6 linked regions of the Homo sapiens genome follow. The protein of the gene in region 5 purifies or fractionates together with the protein of the main gene of each other region. This does not show direct contact. Each region holds a gene or a part of one and is shown on either strand. Other genes may lie near its edges. The genes, in order: PHF10, DPF2, SMARCC2, SMARCA2, FLI1 and SS18.

Evidence for each region.
Region 1: the proteins of FLI1 (region 5) and PHF10 purify together in Homo sapiens (affinity purification with mass spectrometry, with the first as the bait; one large-scale study listed by BioGRID). This does not show direct contact.
Region 2: the proteins of FLI1 (region 5) and DPF2 purify together in Homo sapiens (affinity purification with mass spectrometry, with the first as the bait; one large-scale study listed by BioGRID). This does not show direct contact.
Region 3: the proteins of FLI1 (region 5) and SMARCC2 purify together in Homo sapiens (affinity purification with mass spectrometry, with the first as the bait; one large-scale study listed by BioGRID). This does not show direct contact.
Region 4: the proteins of FLI1 (region 5) and SMARCA2 purify together in Homo sapiens (affinity purification with mass spectrometry, with the first as the bait; one large-scale study listed by BioGRID). This does not show direct contact.
Region 6: the proteins of FLI1 (region 5) and SS18 purify together in Homo sapiens (affinity purification with western blotting, with the first as the bait; one study listed by BioGRID). This does not show direct contact.

Annotation. Positions count from the first base shown.
Region 1 is NC_000006.12:169,707,501-169,711,000, forward strand, and holds part of PHF10 (PHD finger protein 10), read right to left. Parts: intron 2,892-3,500; coding exon 2,736-2,891; intron 1-2,735. UniProt on the Homo sapiens protein: Involved in transcription activity regulation by chromatin remodeling. Belongs to the neural progenitors-specific chromatin remodeling complex (npBAF complex) and is required for the proliferation of neural progenitors.
Region 2 is NC_000011.10:65,336,852-65,340,351, reverse strand, and holds part of DPF2 (zinc finger protein ubi-d4), read right to left. Parts: intron 1-3,500. UniProt on the Homo sapiens protein: Plays an active role in transcriptional regulation by binding modified histones H3 and H4. Is a negative regulator of myeloid differentiation of hematopoietic progenitor cells. Might also have a role in the development and maturation of lymphoid cells.
Region 3 is NC_000012.12:56,161,859-56,165,483, forward strand, and holds the end of SMARCC2 (SWI/SNF complex subunit SMARCC2), read right to left. Parts: coding exon 3,460-3,625; intron 2,874-3,459; coding exon 2,445-2,873; intron 1,908-2,444; coding exon 1,831-1,907; 3' UTR 501-1,830; downstream 1-500. UniProt on the Homo sapiens protein: Involved in transcriptional activation and repression of select genes by chromatin remodeling (alteration of DNA-nucleosome topology).
Region 4 is NC_000009.12:2,021,847-2,025,346, reverse strand, and holds part of SMARCA2 (SWI/SNF-related matrix-associated actin-dependent regulator of chromatin subfamily A member 2), read right to left. Parts: intron 3,403-3,500; exon of another isoform or gene 3,230-3,402; intron 1-3,229. UniProt on the Homo sapiens protein: ATPase involved in transcriptional activation and repression of select genes by chromatin remodeling (alteration of DNA-nucleosome topology).
Region 5 is NC_000011.10:128,767,072-128,770,571, reverse strand, and holds part of FLI1 (Friend leukemia integration 1 transcription factor), read right to left. Parts: intron 2,455-3,500; coding exon 2,300-2,454; intron 1-2,299. UniProt on the Homo sapiens protein: Sequence-specific transcriptional activator. Recognizes the DNA sequence 5'-C[CA]GGAAGT-3'.
Region 6 is NC_000018.10:26,021,114-26,024,613, forward strand, and holds part of SS18 (protein SSXT), read right to left. Parts: intron 1-3,500. UniProt on the Homo sapiens protein: Appears to function synergistically with RBM14 as a transcriptional coactivator. Isoform 1 and isoform 2 function in nuclear receptor coactivation. Isoform 1 and isoform 2 function in general transcriptional coactivation.

The sequences.
Region 1 (3,500 bases), on a different chromosome or scaffold from region 5:
ACTAATAGTTTAAGTTAGATACTGGCATAGTAAATACTCTAATATCTTTCACTAAAGTCAGGGAAGTAACCAAACAATATTAAATTCTAAAAACAGAACTCCTCACAGGAGATTCTTTACAAAACAAAAGCCAAAAGGAGTAAAACACAAGGGTAGTCATTCACATTCTAGAGCAATTCAAGTTCTACAATCATTAAAATATACATTAAACACCTATGATAAAAGGGACACCAAAAAATTCTAGGTTTATTTCTAAGTTTAAATCATAATGATTTGTTAAATCACTTAGTTTTTCTTACCCAACAGCCTTCATCTTGATGAAAAGAGGGAAACATGAGAGAAGGGGAAGAGAGACAGCTTTGTAGCATTTTCTACGATGAATGCTGCAGCTCGATATACAAAGCATCTGCCCTCTCTAAGAAGCCACAGTGCTGGCATCCAGGACTTTACACAGCAGATAACAACTGTGGCTTAGAGAAGCCAGTCTCAAGTGGATTGCACAGTTGAGGGAGGGGTTAATGTGCAGCACTCTCCACAAGACCAATGGAGCACACTCCTATGTGTGTCTGGTTTAGACAATCAGTTCTACTTCAAATAACTGCAACATCATCAGAGTATCACTATTGACAAGAAAACTGAAATACTCATCCTAATAGCTCTCAGCATCTCAAATAAAAGGCTCACAGTACACTTACTTTTCTACTTGAAAAACAGCCAAAGATAAGACTTTCATGGTAGCAATAATATAGTATAGATTTTAATTATTGTATTTATAGGCCGGAATCCTAATAATTATGCTTTAAATTTCAGGTTAATGTAACCTAAACAATACTGTTCTATGAATTAAGGGCAAGCACTAGTGAATCTTATTAAGCAAAGCATCAGATACATTACTTCCTTGAATCTCGTACTTTTTATATATAAACTATGACCTTTAGCTTGAAGTACCCTAATATTTAGGCACATCTTGGTTTATTAATACTTTTTATAAAGAGGTTAACTTTTAATAAGCATGTTCACATTAATGTATGATGACTAGATACTGGTTGTTCCCATCTTTGAAATACCTGAAACATTTTTAGGTACTAAAAATGTTCACAGATTATGTAAAATATAAATTTTGCATATCCTACTTGAGTACTATTAAGTTCAGTTAATCCATATGATTTCTTGTATACTAAATCAATGATAGTGTTGAATAGCTGATTTCCAGCCTGTATTAAAACATCTATTTCAATATTCTCTCTTTTTAACCCATGATCAATCAAGCTTACTGTTGCAAAGATCTACTTAGCACTCAAGAGTTAACAGGACACTGTGCTTTGAGCGGCCACTTCCATTTAAAGCTCTTAGCAGACCAGTAGAACACACTCATTCATGTATACTGCTTCTGAAATTTCATCTTTGGAGCTCACTTGCTTTCAGTTATTAAGCATTAATTTATATAAAGAAATTACATAAGCTATATATGTAAAAACAAGTACAAAAATCACATAGCTGCAGCCTATTGCAGCCACCCTTGGAAGCCAACCCTTGCTGAATTAAGCTTAAAATTTGCTTGCTATAGGCTACAAAAAAAAAAAAGAATTTTTAAGTTAATTACATAAAAGCATTTCCTAATAAAATATGAAATACACTAACTTAATGTCGCTTTTTTTACTTGAAGAAAGGTAAATGAACATGTTAGAACGTGTTCTAGTTAGTTTGAGGGAAAGGTGACTTACTTCAGCCTGTTCTTGTGAATTATTTACCACAATCACAGTTCTGACATACAAGGTGTTTAACAATTTCACTTGGCAAAACTTTCTCATCAGCTTACTCTAAAATTTTCCTTCAATACACCTTCATAAGTGCAATAAAAGCATGTTCTAATACATTTCAGACCAAAAGAATCAAAAGGTAGTCTATTTTACTACCACCATCCCAAATATGAAACTGTACAGCTAATTCTTCCTTTTATGATATTCTTAAATCCCTATATGCAAATAAGGCTACTCATCTCTCACCTCACCTTTTCTTCAGAAGAAAAGGGAGGGGCAGACAGAGGGAGGAAAAGTTCAAAATATAATAATAGTTGCTGACAACCTACTCCTTTACTCTGAGGATAATCAGATCAACAAGTTAACAAGTATGTTTTAATTCTTGCCATAGAATCATATAGGCTCTTTACCAAGGTTATGCTAAAAATCACTACAATGTAAGTAACAGGTTTTATTATTTTCTATCCCAGAGTTAGCTAAATTTAGCATATGGATCAAATAATCCTTAGATTAAACCCAGATCTTTCTTAATGAAAGGCACTAAAAAAAATGCAACTTAGTCTAACAGTATATCCACTCATACTTTATAGCTCAGCAGCTTTAGCTACACTAAATGCTGGGGCATTTAAAATGCCAAATAATTATGATCTTTACTCCAAGGAAAGAAAATATAAACTTCTGCCTATGAAATAATGTTTTAAAAACCCATACTTGCCTGGTTATTCTTTCAAAGAAAAAAAAAGACTTATAAATTGTACATATACAGAAAACAGAAGGTAAACCATAGCCAAAAGTGACAGAAAAGCCACCAAGGAAATAAAGCAAAAAAGAAAGCAGCGGACAAAGGGCACACCATAGAAGAACAGCTAGTGAGGTACAGCAGGCAGAAGCTCCACAATCGTGAAAGTCAAGTTAAAATATTTCAGGGAGAGGCTGGTCAGTAAAGAAGCTGAGTCAGGGGCTTTTTTCTTCTACCTTGTACCCAGGAACTGACTTGGACAGTACAGAACGTTTGGGACCATCTTTTCTTGGAGTGGCAGCTTTGTCTTTTGATTTCTGTCTTCCCTGGAAAGAGTCCTCCTGGCTGTCAGGAGGGCTTTCCCCTTCAGATACATTGCCAGAGGAGCTGTCCTGGAGTTTAAAAGGCAAAAACAAAGATTCTTTGGAATTAAGACAAATTTGAGTCTGGATTTTGAAAACTATGGAAAATATTCAAAGAAAGTTTTAAAGCTTTATCATTTTAAAAATAAAAAGATCATTCTAAATGTAAGAAAGCTTTTTCCAGTGGAGACTAAAGTAAGTTATGTTAAAAATCATTCCTCCTTCTTCTAAGTATATTATATAAAACTGATTCCATATCAGTGCCTTCATCAACTTTGTTTTCTGACATAAGTCACAAAAACACAATTATCCGCTTCAGCTACTATTACGGCACACAGCTTCAACATCATTTTCCGTCACAAGGGAACATATTTGTTTCATACAAAAATATATTGTTACAAATAAGTGTGGGTATTTTCACTGAGTACTAAAAGTCATTAAGAAGGTCCTTCAGGAAAAATGAAGCGCTGCAGTTAGGAAAAAAAAAAAAAAGTCCTTCAAGTACACATTTGTGTTTTCACAATGTTAAACTATGCAGAGCCAATCCCTCAACTATCTACAACAGGATCTGAAATATTTTATATATTCAAGGTTTAAGACCTCAGTATCTGATCATTTAATTCTTCATTTTATAATTTA
Region 2 (3,500 bases), about 63 Mb from region 5:
GGAGCGGGGGGCATAGGGTGCTGAGCTATTCCTCTCCCCTGCCATCTGCTTCTCTAGAAGGCTCAAGGGACTGGGTGGCTGTCTCTTCCGTTCTATTTGCCTCCACTTCTGCCTCATGGGACACGAAGCCCCTTTTCTAGGCCATCATGAGGAATTACTTTACAAATAAATTACCATCAGGAACACATGATTTCATCATATGTCTAATCAGACTTAAGTTTAACCCCCAAAGAGGTGAAAGAATGTTCACTCCACGTGTCTCACAAGCCCACCCCTGTGCTAGTTAAGATGCTATTTCTCTTAACCCTTATGAGGCTAAGAAGCAGATGATAGTCCCTCCTAAGTTCCTCCTTATTCCCTCTTTCCTAGAATCACCTCCCAAATAAACTACATGCTCCCACATCCTTGCCCCAAGGTCTGCTCCAGAGGGAAAGAGTTCAAAGTCTAGGGGACTTATTAAAATGTATTTAGCAAACTATGGTAAATCCATACAATGAAATTCTACTTAGCCATAAGAAGGAAGCTCTTCACATACTGATATTAAACAATTTCAAGTTAACTAGGGACAAAAAGCAAAGCAAGGTACACTGCTGAGAAGCGTCAAATAAAACTATCATTTATGTAACAAAATGGAAAAGAAACTGCAGGTCAGCGGGGAGAAAAAGTGGGTGACTAGGCCACTTCCTTCCATATGCCTTTTTATATCTTTTGAATTTTGAACTAGGTTTTTAATCAACTAATTAATTTTACATTTATGGAAGATGTCTACAAGTACCTGAAGTTCCTTGAAGCTTTTATTGAGCACCATCACTCATAAGAAACTTGTTTGCTCTAAGGCCCATCTTAGGGTTCTTCTCCATTCTCACAAAATAAAATTATATAGGAAAAAATCTTCTTGGTCTCAAAAGACTCAATTTGAAATCTGAATCAAGGGTAAATCTTTAAGTGGAAAACTGGAAAACTGCACAGTGCCAGGAGTTATCTGGTTCTAAGAAGCGTGTATATAGAACCTATCTTGTTCTCATCTTGCAGGGTTTAACAAGGACTTTGGTAATGGAGGTTAACAAACTCGATCTTATATTCAATCAATCTTGTTTTTTTTTTTTTTTAAGAGACAAGGTCTCACTATGTTGCCCAAGCTGGACACAAACTCCTGGCTCAAGTGATCCTCCTGCCTTAGCCTCCCAAGTATCTGGGAATAGAGGCATGTGTCACAGTACCTGGCGTCAATCAATCTTAAACCAAGGGCAGAATTGATTTATTTCTCATAGTATCCCTAATACTCATGACGATGTCTGAGATACAGTCAGACTTGACTTGAGAGTAAAAAGACCTGGCTTGCCTGCAAGTCACACGAACATGGACACTTAGTCAGCCCAGGTGGACCTTGGTTACTCTTCTATAGATTGAGGAGGTTGGACCAAATGAGCTTTGACATATCAGGATTTTACAAGAAACAGCCTGGGGATGAGACAGCAAACAGATTAAGTCTCTGTGGTTTCTGTCCGTAACTCGGGCTACACCAACAAACCCTGCTCTAGAATGTGACAGGGTCCTTCAGTGAGCAGCCACAATAGACCACTGCATAACTTAGCATGTGCCCAGCAAGTAAAAAAGACACATACGACACACAGAGACGGCAATGCCACAAATATAGCCTGGCGTGATTCAATGAGCTGTAATGACTGTAATCTGAGGTAGGCACGAATCTCACGTTGGAGAGCAGAATGGAGAAGGCAGCCTTGCCTCTGTGGGCTCGCCTTTAGGAGGCAGCCACGTCTTCACCACACAGAATAAAATTGGATAAACAAGGTTGAGTGCGGCAGCTCCTTTGTTTCTGCTGATGGGAATTGATACGGACACTGGAAGTCAAATGGAAGGCAGGGCCAGGCTGGCGAGTGCTGCAAAGTCAGAGCAAGGAGGCTGGAAACAGTTTTGCGGGGAATGAATGAGAGATGTTCTGTCAGGGCTCTTGTGAGCTACATAAGGCAGGCAAACAGTCTTGGGGGTAAAAGGGCTGGGAAGGAAACACTGAAGTGTGGGGGGAGAATCTCATGAAGAGAGAACAAGACAGCATGACAGTGAGCTCTTAAGAACTTAAGGGAGGCCGGGCACAGTAGCTCATGCTTATAATCCCAGCACTTTGGGAGGCCAAGGCTGGTGGATCTCTTGAGACCAAGAGTTAGAGACCAGCTTGGGCAACATAGTGAGATCCCATCTCTACAAAACGTTAAAAAATAAAAATAAAAAAGGCCTGGCGCAGTGGCTCACGCCTGTAATCCCAGCACTTTGGGAGACTGAGGTGGACGGATCACCTGAGGTCAGGAGTTCGAGACCAGCCTCAACATGGAGAAACCCTGTCTCTACTAAAAATACAAAATTAGCCGGGCGTGGTGGTACATGACCATAATCCCAGCTACGGGGGAGGCTGAGGCAGAAGAATTGCTTGAACCTGGGAGGCGGAGGTTGCGGTGAGCCGAGATTGCGCCATTGCACTCCAGCCTGGGCAACAAGAGCGAAACTCTGTCTCAAAAAAAATAAAATTAAAAAAAACAAAACAAACAAACAAAAAAACCATCAGCTAGGCTTAGTGATGCATGCCTGTGGTTCCACGTAGCCCCTGGGGCGGATGAGGTAGGGGAATCATTTGAGCCTAGGAAGTTGAGGGTGCAGTAAACCAAGGTTATACCACTGCACTTCAGCCTGGGGGACAGAGGGAGGCTCTGTCTCTTAAAACAAAAAAAAGCAATAACAAAAACTTAAGGCTCCGATACCAAGAAATGTCAAGTTAACATTAACATTGTTCTCTCTCTCTCTCTCTCTCTCTCTCTCTCTCTCTCTCTCTCTATATATATATATATATATATATATATATATTTTTTTTTTTTTTTTTTTTTTTGAGATAGAGTCTTGCTTTGCCGCCCAGGTTAGAATGCAGTGGTGCAATCTCGGCTCACTGCAGCTTCTGCCTACTGCAGCTTCTGCCTCCCGGGTTCCAACGATTCTCTTGCCTCAGGCTCCCGAGTGGCATGCGCCACCACGCCCAGCTAATTTTTGTATTCTTAGTAGAGACAGGGTTTCACCATGTTGGCCAAGCTGGTCTCGAACTCCTGACCTCATGATCCGCCCACCTCGGCCTTCCAAAGTTCTGGGATTACAGGTGTAAGCCACCGCGCCCTGCCTCTAGATTTTGCCTAGAAAGTTTCAAAACCAATCAGCAGCTACAGCTATACTATTATTTTACTTTCCTAGTAAGAACGCTTAAAGACTTTCTCTCTTTTTTTGAGACGGAGTCTCGCTCTGTCGCCTGGGCTGGAGTGCAGTGGTGTGATCTCTCCTGGGTTCAAGCGATTCTTCTGCCTCAGCCTCCTGAGTAGCTGGGACTACAGGTGCACGCCACCATGCCCAGCTAATTTTTGTATTTTTACTAGAGACGGGTTTCACCACCTTGGCCAGGCTGGTCTCAAACTCCTGACCTTGTGATCCGCCCGCCTCAGCCT
Region 3 (3,625 bases), on a different chromosome or scaffold from region 5:
CTTCCAGCTCCTTAAATCTGGCCCCCGCCCTCCCAAGCTCCCAATAAGGCCTTTTGTGGGGAAGCCTGTGGAGTGTTTATTGGAGCTAAAGCCAGGCCATTATTAGCACTGCCTAAGCCTGTCCGTCACCTCAGCAGGGTGAAGGGCCAATTATAACAAAAGTAGGTAAGGGGCTTGCCTCCTCTCTAATAAGGGAAGGAGTGAAACCACTACTTCTGAAGGGACAGAGATACAAAATTCCATGTTGTGGGAATGTCCTTCCAAGTCTTAAACAGCTTTTAGGGCAGGTGAGAGCCTCTGCTCCTATACCAGCACATAGTCTCGACAGTTGTGCTGCCGTTCGTGTTTTGTGGGGAGGCGCAGTGTCTGTAGGCCGTGTGGCTTGCAGAGTGTCTTTCGGCCCAGGTAAACGCCGCTGTGAAGGACTCCAGGAAAGCTGCTCCCATCACAATCCCCCTGCCTGACAGCCACAGGTAAGAACACAGAATGCACCCACAAGATGGAACTGAAAGCAAATTAATTTATAAAAAAAAAAAAAAGAAAGAAAGAAAAAAAGAGAAAATTTACAGAAAACTTTGAACAGAAGAAAGGTGCTAAGACGCAGAGGGAGAGAAACATGGGGACATGAGGAACAAAGGGCCTGGTGGGAGGAACCAAGAAGAACCAGTGCAGAGCCTGGAGTCACACCTGCCTTCCCGTCACAGGGGAGAAGCTGGGACACGTGGAGCAGGAATGCGGGAAGCAGAGTTGAGCTGCGAGCCAAGGGTTGGTCCAACCCAAGGTTGGGCACCCTCTTCCACTGCTCCCAAATCCCTGCATCCTCATCTGGGGAGCCCCCAGCTATCAGCTGAAGTTCTCATAGTCTTGGTGGGAGAGGGAGGAAGCTAAGGGGTGACCCACCAAGTCATAATATGGAGGTGCTTAAGTGCTTTAAAAAACAATTTCAGGTTTTAAAACTTCACATCCTCTTATAGCTCCCTTCTCTGTGCCTTCCAGGAGTCCATGGATACAGCCCAGGGAAGGAAGGAGAACAGCCCCCAGTGCCCTTTCTTCTCCTATTACCTACCACAGAAATCCCCGAAATTAGGTTTTCCCCACCAAATACACATACGCTGACATCAACTAAGCAAGTGACTTTTAAAAACAAAACTGACATTCAGAGGGAAAGGAATCATTGGCTGAGCTGGGGTGGCCTAAAACAGCAACAATGAGGAAGCCGCAGGAGGGATTATTAGTACGAATGAACTCGAATAAGCTCAGCGTAGGGTGGGGGAGGGGAGTTGGGGCCTTGACTTAGTCACTAAAAAGGGGCTTGGGGAGAGATGGAATCTGCGCCCTGTTCTATCCCCAGAGCTCTCCCTGGAATCTTAATTCCCCTTTCCTAAAACTCACTCCCCCTCAAAAAATGTAAAAATTGGTTATTTTTTAGTGGGTAGAAGGGAGCTCCAATGTGGCTTTTTAAAATCTACTTTTTTTTTTTTTTTTTAATCCATAGAAAATGCAGTAGTTTGGAGGGAGGTGTACCCTTAGAAGTGGTTAATAGAACCTTGTATAAACACCTTTCACCAGCCCTTCCTTTAGGGCAGCATTCCCATCCTATCCTCTCTCCCAGACATTATAAACATCTTTTAAACAGAAGTCCTTGAATAATCTGATATAAAAATGCATGCCTCTGTTAGGCATGGTGAGGGCTTTGGAGGGGCGGAAGGAGCTTTCCTTACGTAGTGATGAACTCTCCAGGCTGGGGAGGGTCCCAGTGGTGGGGGAAGGGCTGTTCCTGGAACCGTGATGTCCACAGGGGGTGAGGGGGAGAGATGTCTGGCTGGCTCCTCACTGTGGAGGTGGCACAGGGGTGACCGTGCCTGGGCTCGGGGCTGTGGGGTCTGGAGGCAGGGGGGTGCCTGGGTCTGTGGAGAAAAGGAAGATAAATCAGTTAGAGTACGCCGGAGAGATGGCTCCAGACCCAGACCACCACAGACAGACAGAACCGGGCATGGCATGCAGTGGCTGGGTGGATGAATGAGGTACCCATAATGTTCAACTTCTGTTCCCAACACTCTTTTCTACCTCATACTCAGAAAAACATATAGAAAGACTCTCTATATGGGGCATTTGAACGTGATAGGAATAAGCAAAGGGATGCCACTCAATCATCATGCAAACAGCTGCTTTTCAAGTTTACAACTGAGATGCTCTCTGCCACAGGATTGCTCCATGACCCACCAGTGAAAGGCCCCAACATCATCCCAAAGGTGGCAGCTGCCAGGCTGGGGAATGGTGGAGGACGGCCAGAGAGGCCCTTCCTCCTGTATTCTAATTTTACCAGAGTGTTCAAAAAGGATTGTGGAAACTCTAATACCTGACCTCTTCCCCACCTGCCCGCTCACCCTCCCTCCAGGTGGACCCCTCTCCCTCACCCTTCTCCCCTCTTGGCCCCTTCTCACCTGGCAGTGGGCTGGCACTGGGCAGGAGGTTGCCCTGAACAGCTGCCACAATGGCAGGGCTTTGGGCTGCGGCGGATCCGAGCCCCGGCCCGAGAGGCAAGGAAGATGGCATGGTGGTGGTCGCCGGCAGGTTAGGATGTAGAGGGTTCGCCATGGACACAGGCAGGTTAGGTGGGGGGAGAGTGCCCGGGGCGAACGGGAGATGGTGGTGATGCCCATGCAGGTTAGGAGGAGCGGGGAGGTTAATACTGATGGAGTCAGCTAGACTACCAAATGGGATGATGGATGGAGCAGGAGGAGGAGGAGGAGGCGGCATGCCAAAAGGCAAACCCAAAGGAGCATTACCCGCCACGCCTGGGTGCCCGCTGCCTGGCACTGCCCCTGGCATCATTGAGGGAGGAGTTTGTTGGTTGGGGAACGGTGAGGGGCCTGAGAATAAAGATGAGAGATGGAGAAAATTAGGTATAAAATTTTGCTTAACAACTCACCTTTTCTATTTTTTTTTTAGACGGAGTCTCACTCTGTCACCAGGCTGGAGTGCAGTGGCACGATCTTGGCTCACTGCAACCTCCGCCTCCCGGGTTTAAGCAATCTCCTGCCTCAGCCTCCCGAGTAGCTGGTACTACATGTACGCACCACCACGCCCAGCTAATTTTTGTATTTTTACTAGAGACGGGGTTTCAACATGTTGGCCAGGATGGTCTCAATCTCCTGACCTCGTGATCCACCCATTTCGGCCTCCCAAAGAATAACTCACTTTTACAAACAAGGATAATCTAGCCATTCCTTGGCACTATCTTCCCCTTTTCTGACACTAGAGTAAGTGAATAAAATTCCAAAGCTCTCGAGTTTGGGGAAGGACTCCTGCTGATTTAGGGGCCTAAGAGAGATGGGCCCATCTGTAGAAATTGAGGCTAACCTCATCTCCACACTCATCTTGTATCCCCTTTGAGGAGAACTGGGACATTCACCTGGATTCCTCTAGCCAACAAAAGTTCTGGAACATAACACTTACCATGGGGTCCAGGGGGGGGAACCCCTGGTGGGACTGCCCCAGGCTGGGGGGCTCCAGCTGGTTGCTGCTGCTGTGGCCCTGCAGTTGACCCTGCCTGCCCAATCTGTTCAGAAGGGCCCAAACTTCCTGGAGGGGCCCCACTGCCAGCAGGAGCAGGGACTACAGA
Region 4 (3,500 bases), on a different chromosome or scaffold from region 5:
GGAGAGGGGGGCACAGCAACCTCCCCATACACATGCATTGCTGGTCCCCACCCTCCCCCAGACCAGGACTCCCCGAGGGCCAAACCACTATGTTCTTAGGCAAGAATTTCTCAGCAGTATACTCTGTCTTGATTTCGTCCTTACTTCCCACTTTCCTACATTCACAACTAGAGAGTGTGTGTTTTTAAAAAGAAGAGGCCCCAGAGGAGCTTGCCAGAGCTCCAAACACCACAGTCATCCTCCCTCAGCCCAAATCTCCTCTGCCCTTAGCTGAAAGGCTCAGCACAGCCATCTGCATATTAAAAGGAGTTCAACTTCATGGAATTTTAAGGGTCACCACTCCAACCATGACAAAACTTGTGTCTTACAGTCTAATTGTAACCAACAGAAACACCAAAGACCCCCACATGTGGAGTAATATTTGAACACACCTACATGTGTTTCCTAATAATTCTGGTGATTTGAAGAGACATTTTGCCACAACGCCATTGAAAAGATGAGGGCAATAAGGCAGAAGGGGAAAACATGGCTTGCCCAAAGTAACATCTGCAACAGGAGAGAAACCGCAGGCAGAATCTTTTATCCCTTGACTCCCAGCCCAACACTGAGCTATGACACGGATCTAGCAAGCCATGTTTCCACCAGAGTTTTCACCAGGCCAGAGCAATGTGCAGGGGTAGAAAGTAGAAGCCAAAGAAAAAAAGGTCAGAAACAGTGGAAGGGATATCTTGCAAGGACTAGGCTTTGGTTGTGATAATATATTAACTTACCACAGGCTAGAGAAGTAAAGAGAAGCCCTGGAATGTGAAAAGAAGACCATGTCATCAACTGAAAAGGTCGATGATGTTTTAGTTACCATACCGAGTATCTACTAGGTACAAGGCATGCAGGCGGTACAAAAATGAATAGAAGGCTTACCCCACAACTCTGGAAGTCTGATACGGAAATCAGACTTGTGCGTAAGTAGCAACAAGATAAAAATATTGAAAGATCCTGCAGGACACGGAGGGGTACAGCCAAACTATCCAACACAGTCATAGAATGGGAGACATTACCTTTAGCTCAGAGGTTACAGGAGAGAAAGGAATTAGGTAAAGTGTAATGGAGAAGGTAGCATTTCAGCAAGGCCTTCAAGTTTAAAAAAAAGAAAAAAAGTTCCCTAGAAACTTTTGGTTTCTAGTCGCAGAGTTTGGGGCAGCACACCAACCTTGACAATATCTCTTAAATTGCTCTTCACCAAACTTCATAAGAAAGCACAAGGAAATCTTGGATCTCCAGCCTGTCTTTTTTCACAGCTCACTTTACAGAAAAACTTGGAGGTCCAGGTTAAAGGTGGAATATCAGAAATAAAAGTTAGGCCCAGTCCACATCTCCAAGAATATCCCAGTCTTATTAAAGTGTTCTGGCTGTTACAGGAGAACTGCAAGGTTCAGGAGATAGTTAAGATAAGAGTTCTTTTTATGTCTGTTTGCTGATTCAGAACATCTCCCCTGACCTGAAGGGCTGCCTCTTGTTTTGTATGTGGCTTTCTCTGTAAATGAATTGATAATTCACCCACAAGAAGTAGCAACATCTTCAGAACTGGGCCTCAAGCACTGTTATTCTTAATGGGGAAGCAGTGCGGGGTGGGTAAGGAGAACAGCAATGCAGATAAAGGAAATAAATCTACCCGAAGTTTCCTTTTTACAGGCCAAGGTTGTCGGGATAAGCGGTGAAACATTACCAAGGCCCACACTGCTTCTTGGTCTGAGCTGTGCAACTTTAAACAATGCATAATGTGATCTGTCAGATACAAATCACACCGGGTTCTAAAGTTAACCTTATAAGTTGCTCCATCAAGACCCTAGAAAATCACTGAGAACATTTCTTCAGCATTCTTGGGGTTATTCACAACACTTTCCCATTCGTTTCAAAGTCAAATATGTTTTTTAAAAGTTGTTAGATTAAAACTTTGCTCTGTTCCTTGGGCTTCTGTGAACTCTCCTTCATCTTTCAATCAGGGCAACAAATTAGGATGTGGGTGAGCTGCTACCCTCACTTTAAATAAACTGCCTTGGGAATGGTCCTTGCCCAGAGTCAGACCTGGCAAAGGCTGTGAGGCAGCTCTGTGCACAACAAAAGATAACAACAAACTCGGCAGCAGCTAATTAGTCCCCCATGAACCTCAGACACTGCCTTAATAGGATCCTGGCTCTTAACATTACCACCCTTATAGATACCATGAGTTGCCATCTCAAAAGAGTCTACCAGCGATGCAATTTCATGGCCTCTTCCATGAGGACTGACAGTGATCCCACAAAGGAAAAATTGTTTTAAAAAGGGAATTTACGAGAAAACCTAAGTGTTAGAAACCCTTTAGAGCAAAGCATCCTCTACTCTGAGACTCATGTCCATTAGTAGTTATAAAGGTAATCACAGATGAAAATCACTTTTAAAATTCAGTGGAACCCAAAGGGCTGGGCAAACTGGTCAAAACAAAAGCTAACAAACTGAACAAAAAAAAGTTAGTTTCAAATCATGACACCCTGAAAGGTAATATGTCACGTATATTTACACATATGCCTGTCTCTCCTAGGTTAGGCCCTTTTGCAAAGCAACCTCATTCTGGATGTTGATAAGAATCAACAACAGCCACTTCCTTTTCTGACTGCCAAGATAAGTTTATTTATACTTTAAACATATAAAAAGAAGAGTCTGAAATACATACTTTAAAAACCTGTGGTTAAAATGGCACATTTTTACTGAAGAGTAAAACTCAACCATCATATGCTGAATGAACTAAAGTTCTATCATAGGCACTCATTAATGTCAACTGGCCCTGACTTTCACAGTAGCAACAACAATTCAACAATGAACTCCAAGTTCATTGCAGTTAAAATGGATAATAGCCATTAATGATGTTACTATGCCTTTTAAAAAATCAACAAATGAGTTCATTTAACCTCTCTGAGTTTCAAGCTCCTTACCTACAAAATAGGCATAACAGTAGCTGACTACAACTTCAATTTTGATACGAATCAAATAAAATATGAGATATGAAGACACCTTGTGAGCTACTATATGCTCGCATTATTGCCAGGATCCTTCTAACAGCTTCAATTCCCACTCTGGACTTGAATCCACAATTTGCCAGATTAATCTAAAATATTGCTTTGTTCATGTATTCCCTTGTTCAAAACTTCTGAGACAAGCCTCCAATACAGATTGGATAAAATATTCATGCTTTAACCTGCAAGTCAAGTCTTTCCACAATCTCCGACTTTATCTTCTGAAAATTCTCCCCAACTGGAACTTCTTGCTCCAGGCAACCGGTCAAAACAGGTACATTGGTCTTTCCACGTTCCTTCAGGCCGGGTCTCTGTGATCTCGCCGGGTCTCTGTGATCTCGGGGCTTTCTTCTGATCTGGGATGCTCAGATGCCACCACCCCCACCTCTGCCCTCCCCCTACAGCAACCTTATCCCATCTCAAAGACCTTATCTACCCCATCAGCTCAAGAAA
Region 5 (3,500 bases):
TCTGGATCATGCTAAACTCTTCCAAATGCATTTCCTGGATGATTTAGTCCTAGTTTCTTCCCATCTGAACATGGAGCTAGTGATTAACTAGGGCCCACATTTATACTTGTCTTTAAATCCCATCATAAATTCAATCGGTTATTCCACTAATATTTTATTGCCTTGATTTGTGGACTTGCCCAAATGAGACTTCCCCTCATATCCACAGCCTGGCCTGGAGGAAGCCAAAATGTGTGAGGACCTAAAAGATCTAGCCGGAGCTAAAATAATGAAGTAAATCCATAGCCTGAAAGTGCTTTGAAAATCATTTGACATGAATTTGTTTTATTTTCACCACCAGCGCTATAGGTAACTTGGCTCAGCCAAGCCTGATGTTTTGCTATTCCTTTTGAAAGCATTTCAACACTGATCAAAGAAAGTTTGGAGGGTCGACATAGCAGTCTGGCCACTTCTGCCCATTTCCAAGATTCCTTCCCCAAAATGACGACCAAAATGAGATGGTGCCAAAGGTTGGTTCAAAGACAATCTCAGATCCCCAAACCCTTCAGTCCAGCAAGCTTTCCCTCCCAGGCTGGGAGCTGTTTGACTGAAGCAGGGGAGTTTGAAACCATTTGAGTGAAGACCCAGTGAGGCTCAGCTTTGCTTTGGGCTGTACAAAGAGATTCCCACCTGTCAGTTCTAATACAGTTTCATTGTCTGCTTTCAGTGAGGAGGGAGACGATACACCTGGGCTAAACATTACTAGCTGGTCTCCTGTGACAGGTGTTTTAAGTAATGCCATGGAGATAAAGCAATTTACGTGGTGCCTGGCACCTAGAAAGCACTCAATAAATGGAAGTGATTCTTCCTCTTCCTTTGTTAGGTCAGATGCTTGTGGAAGAGCAAACTTAGAATTGCTTTAGGAGTCATTTCTAAGTCCTAAAGGGTACAGAGAAATTTCTACAAGCCCCACCCGTCTGCTGCCTCACTCTTGCTCACACCTTCTTGAATTTGGCCCAGAGCACAGGGAGGCAGCTGTAATCCAGGGATATGGTGAGATGCAGCTTCCCAGGGAAAACAAACACCACGGGCCAAGGCAGGAGGCAGCCCTTAACATTTCTGCCTTTAGACCTACAAGCAGATGCCTTCGGACTACCTCAAAGAGATGTCTAACCTTTTGACTTCAGAGGCAACTACATTTATGCTTTTACAAATGGAAGGAGTTTTGCCTCTCTGGTAAAGTTATTTTGGTAAGATCAGGTTTAATCCCTGCCCTGTAATCACTTTGCTTAAGATTTGGACATCCTTGCCCCTTCTACCTGGCACCAGTTCTACACGTGGCAGTTTGTAAACACCCTTCTTGTGCAGGCAGCTGAGCTTGCTGGTGCTAGCTGGGGTGGAGTGTCCAGCCAATGGACTGAAGGACTGAACGATGATTTTATTTTCTGGGACCAACAGCACCAACACCTAGGAAAAAGAGGCTATTTTTACCTAATGACATAACTTGTGGCACACATGTTAAGGCACTCCATTAGTTAAATATAGTTCTTTCTATTTTAAAACTGAAAGAGCTGGCTGTAATTTTGGAAAGGTGGAACCTGGTAGATGCCGGGAAGTACGAGCCTGGAGGGAAGGACTGGCCTCTGCAGCTGACCTCCTCCTCACAGGCAGGGATGCCCACATCCAGAGCTCACGGGATTCCTTTTGGGTGGAGGCGGCCTTGCCTCTGCTCTCTGAGCAGCCCGTCCTTGAGGACCAGGCCATTGATGTAGAGTCTGTGATGTGGTCTGTTTAAGGGTGGGGCTTCTAGCACCCACACATCAGGTGACATCTGGGATACTGCCTTAAAGGGCAGCTAGGAAGTCAGGTAAAATGTGCAGCTTTTTTTTTTTTTTTTTTTTTTTGAGACAGAGTCTCATTCCATCACCCAGGCTGGAGTGCAGTGGTGTGATCTTGGCTCCCTGCAACCTCCGCCTTCCCGGTTAAAGCGAGTCTCCTGCTTCAGCCCCCTGAGTAGCTGGGAATATAAGCGTCCACTACCACACCTGGCTAATTTTTGTATTTTTTTTTTTTTTTAGTAGAGATGAGGTTTCACCACGTTGGCTAGGCTGGTCTTGAACTCCTGACAAGTGATTCACCCGTCTTGGCCTCTCAAAGTGCTGGGATTACAGGCGCGAGCCACCACTCCCGGCTGGCGTGCAGCTTTCTCCATTTTGCAATTCCACAGGGAATAGAGTATCAGATAAAGGTTTAGATGCTCCCTGCCCCCCCAGAGAGTGGGGAAGTGAATGGCGCCCAGGCAGCCTGGTTCTCGAATTACCTGCGGGGACGATGACTCTCCTCTCGTTGGTGGTCATGTTGGGAGGAGGGGGGCCATTCTTCTCGTCCATATAGCTGTTGTAGTTCATGGGGTTGGACTCGCCTCCGCCCACCAGCTTGCTGCATTTGCTAACGCTGCAGTCCACCGGAGACTCCCTAAAGTGAGAAGAGACAAAGCCCAGAGGCGGTCAGCACTGACAGGGCAGCTTGCCTCAGCCTCTGAATCATGAGCCCAGGGCTCCGATGATGAGCATGGAGCCATTGCCCGGCCACACTTGGTGTCATGATGATGATGATGCCCTCTTTCTATCCTCCATGCTGCCACCAGAGTTTTCTTCAAATCCCAGCCCAATCCTATAATTACAGTACGTAAAAACTGCTGGCAGCGCCTCAGTGCCCTCAGACCAAGGTCTGAGCTTCTTTGTGTGGCATCGCAGCCCTCCCTGTCTGACTGCAGCTTACATTTTTAGCCTCACTGCCAGGCAACCTAGTCCATGCTCCCAGACACGCCTTCCCCACAGTCCCCCAGCACTTGGTGCCCGCCTTGGTTATAAGGACTTGTCACACTGTCTGATTCTCAGCTTGGCCTGCGCCCCCTGACTGCTGAGTTCTTGAGAGGATAGTCATCACTTTCTTTGTTTAACCCTAGTATTCTTACAGGAGGTGAGCAGCAAATGCTTTCTCAGTGAGTTATTTCTATTGCACATATATAAGTTTAATGCATTTCTTATGCACTGTTGTATTCGAATTTCCCAATAAGCCCCCAGGATAGGCACAGCAAGGGTTACTATCTCCTTTTCATGGTTAATGAAATCGAGACAGGGGCTGCCTGGCTCAGTCACACAGCTAGTCAAGGTGGAAACAGGACTCAGGTCTTCTGTGTTAAGCTTCACTATCAAGCACACATGCAAAAGAGCTGGTTGCTACTTGGAGAAGGAATGGAGTCCAGGAACTTCCACCTGATGGAGAGGTGGTGGCCCTGTGGCATTTTGCATCCCTGGCCCCAAGCTCACTGTGGAAGCAGTATGGACATTCACAAGAGAGAAAGCAGATCATCCAACTTAGCCTAGAACTACAGAACTTGATCAGCACCTGGTATTTTGCAGCACTGGTGATGGGCAGCTGTCTGGAGGGGTGAAGTCCCACCCATGGCCACCTGGCGCCCTGAAGCTGGCTGGCAAACACACTCTGCATGCCCTCCA
Region 6 (3,500 bases), on a different chromosome or scaffold from region 5:
CATGCCTAAAAAGGTAGGCTGTGTATCTGCAACCATTAACAAATTCCAAGGTGGCATTAAGGATTAAAAGTACGGCTTTTGGAGCCAGAAACCAATTTCTAGTGCTAACGTCACCACTTAACAGCTTCTTATCCTTGGGCAAGTTGCTTAACCTCCCTGAGTTTCAATTTTATCATCTGACAAGGGTAATTATAATCTCTATTTTAAAAAGTTATTCAAGAAGAAAAACATGAAAATGCTCTGTGAACTACTCAAGTACTCATTAACAGTATGGGTGGCAGCATGGTACAGTGAACAGAGCATGGGCTTTCAGCACTCAGCAGTAGTCATGCAGCTTCACCACTCCTGAATTCTGTCATCTTGAGTAAATCACTTGAACACTCTAAGCCTCACCTTCTCTCTCTTTGCTCTTCAATTTTTAAAAAAAATTCCTCTGACTACAGTATAAAGAATTTTAATGGGAAAGAAGACAGTATGGAAGATCCTACTGCGATGAAGACAGGAGATGAACATGGTCTAAACTAAGATAAGGGTGTAGGTTAGAAAGAAATGAATGGGTTCAAAAGCTTTTCAAAAAGGAAGATCAATAACATTTGTCATTTATTAGACAAGGGAGGAAAAGCAGGGACACTTAAATACCAAACAGGCACTTGGCAATCTAGCTTGGTGATAGTACCCCTCTCTTTGATAAAGAACACAGAAAAGTTTTGGTAGAAAAAATTATAAATTTATTTTGTTTCTGCTGAATTAATACCTATGATACATCTAAGCAGAGCTGTCGAGTAGGCATCTAATTTCCAGAAGAGAGATTGAGACTATAAATAGAGATTTGGGAGTCAACAGCATGGTGAACTGAGACCTTGTGAATAAATGAGAATGCCTAGGGAGAGTATATTGAATGAGAAGAGTTCCTAAGGTAGAAATCTGAGCAATACCAAAATCTTTACATTTCTTTCCTTCATTCTATTTACCTAATCAGTTTAAAATCTTAACATTATTCCTTCACAACATTTTAGGGGTTTCCTCTTAACTCTGGTCTTGTGATCACGCATTCAAATCTAGAAAGTAGTGGCCTTATTTACTCAGTTGTTTATACTTTATTCACCAATATTTACTGATTATGTGCTGTGCTCTACTAGGTGACAGAGACTCAACAGTAATAAAAACAGACAAAGCGATGCTTTTAAAGAGGTTACATTCTTGGGGAAGAAGAATATGACAATAAACAGTAACAAAATAATCTGTCAAATGAAGAGAAATGTTATGTTGAAAAATTAATGCATGTTTCTATTCAAGATGGATTTATCTGGCAGCCTGAAACAATAAAAAAAAAAAAAACTACACAAAGCATATGATAATCATATTCAGGACACACAGGACAGAGCCAACAAAGGACAATGATCCCTGAGACATGGTAAACAAATGAGGCCAGCCCTCTGACTACCACAGCTAACTACCTTGAGAGTTTCCAGTCTGCAGTGCACGAAGGGGAACTGAGGCTGAGTCTGCCAGATGTTCTGACTTAAGGAGATAAGGCTTAGAGTCTGGAGAGAAAAAGGTAGCTAGAGTTAACAGGACAGAGTACCCTACAAGAAAGATCTGCCTAAAGAGACAACTGTGGAGATGTGCAGAGGAACCCTCCTCCTATTCAGCATAGTACAGATATGCAAATGTGTGAGGAAAATACCCAGGGCTGAGGCAAGAAACACCCAAAAGGATTAGGGGAAACAATACTTGTTTGTCACATAGGAACAGAATCAGTGCTTATTCCCACCAGTCAGAGTAAAAAGCCTTACAATTCAAAGGGCATTGGGCAAAACACCCAAAAGGCTCTTACCTTATCAGTGATGAGTATTTAGCCCAGGACTAAACACTGCTCTTTGTCCTGCCTAGAATATCTTAAAAGCAATTTCAGAAAGTTCAAACTGTTTGTAACTTATTAAACTGAATCCCAAAGCAAAGCTTAAGAATATCTCTAGGTATACATATATCTTCATCACCCAACATAAAATTCACAATGTCTGGAATCCAATCAAAGATTATCACGCACACAAAGGACAGAGAAAAAAAACTGATTAAAACTGACCCTAAAATGACATAGATTATTAGAGTTGGCAGAAGAGGATATTAAAAGAATTATATTTGTATTCCATATGTTCAAAACAATTAAGGACAGACACGGAAGATATTAAAAAGACCTAAACCAAACTTGTAGAGATGAAAATGACAAAGTCTGAGATAACACTCAACAAACTCCAAGCATAAGAAACATGAAGAAATCAACACCAATGCATGCTCTCATCAAATTGCTCAAAACAATTTGGGCAAGAGAGAAATTTCTTCAATCAAACAATTTGATAAAGGGAAAATCTTAAAAACAGAGAAAAAAGACATATTAACTACAAAAGAACAAAGATAAATGACAGCAAATGTCTCCTTGGAAACAATGTAAGGAAGAAAAGAGTGGAGCATCTTTAAAGTATGGAAAGAAAACAAAAACAAACTGTCCACCTAGAATTCTATACCCAGAGAAAATATCTTTCAAAAATAAAGGCAAAATAAACATTTTTTTCAGACATACAAAAGCTGATTATTACCAGTACACCTGCATTTCAAGAAATGTTAACATCCTTCAGGCAAACAAAAATGATACCACATAGTAATATGAATCCATACATAAATAATGAAGAGTACCAAAAACGGTAACTACATGGGTCAATTTAAAAATTTTTTTTTCCTTATTATTTAAGTATCTTTAACTGATTTTTTTAGACAAAAATAAATTCAATACACTGTGGGGTTTATAACGTATACAGAAGTAAAATTTGTAACAATAACACAAAGAGAAGAAAAGCAGACTACCTTAAGGTTCTTACACTATGTATAGGCATACTATCACTTGAAGACACTGATACACGCTACACAGACGAACCTTGAAAATATTATTTTAAGTAAAAAAAACAAAACACCAGTCACAAAACTCCACATATTGTATGATTCCATTTATCTTAAATGTACTGAATAGGCAAATCTATAGAGATAGAAAGTAAACTACTGTTGCTGGAAAATCTCCAAATATTTGAAAACGAAATTACAGAATGAGTATTTAAGTATTTAAGGCTGAGTAGTTAAAGGGGAATGAGGAGTGACTGCTAATAGGTATACAGTTTATCAGGCTGGTGAAAATGTTTTAAAATTAGAGGGTGGTGATGGCTGCACTTTTTTGGGGGGACAGGATATTAGCTCTGTCACTCAGCCTGGAGTATAGTGACACAATCACAACTTACTGCAGCCTCGACCTCCTGGGTTCATGCAATCTTCTGCCTCAGCCTCCTGAAGAGCTGGGACTACAGGCACATGCCATCATGCCTGGCTAGTTTTTTGTAGAGGTGGGGGTCTCGCTTTGTTGCCCAGGTTGGTCTTCAACTCCTGGGCTCAAGCAATCCTCCTGCCTTAGCTTCCCAAAGTGCTGTAATTATAGGCGTGAGCCACCACCCCCA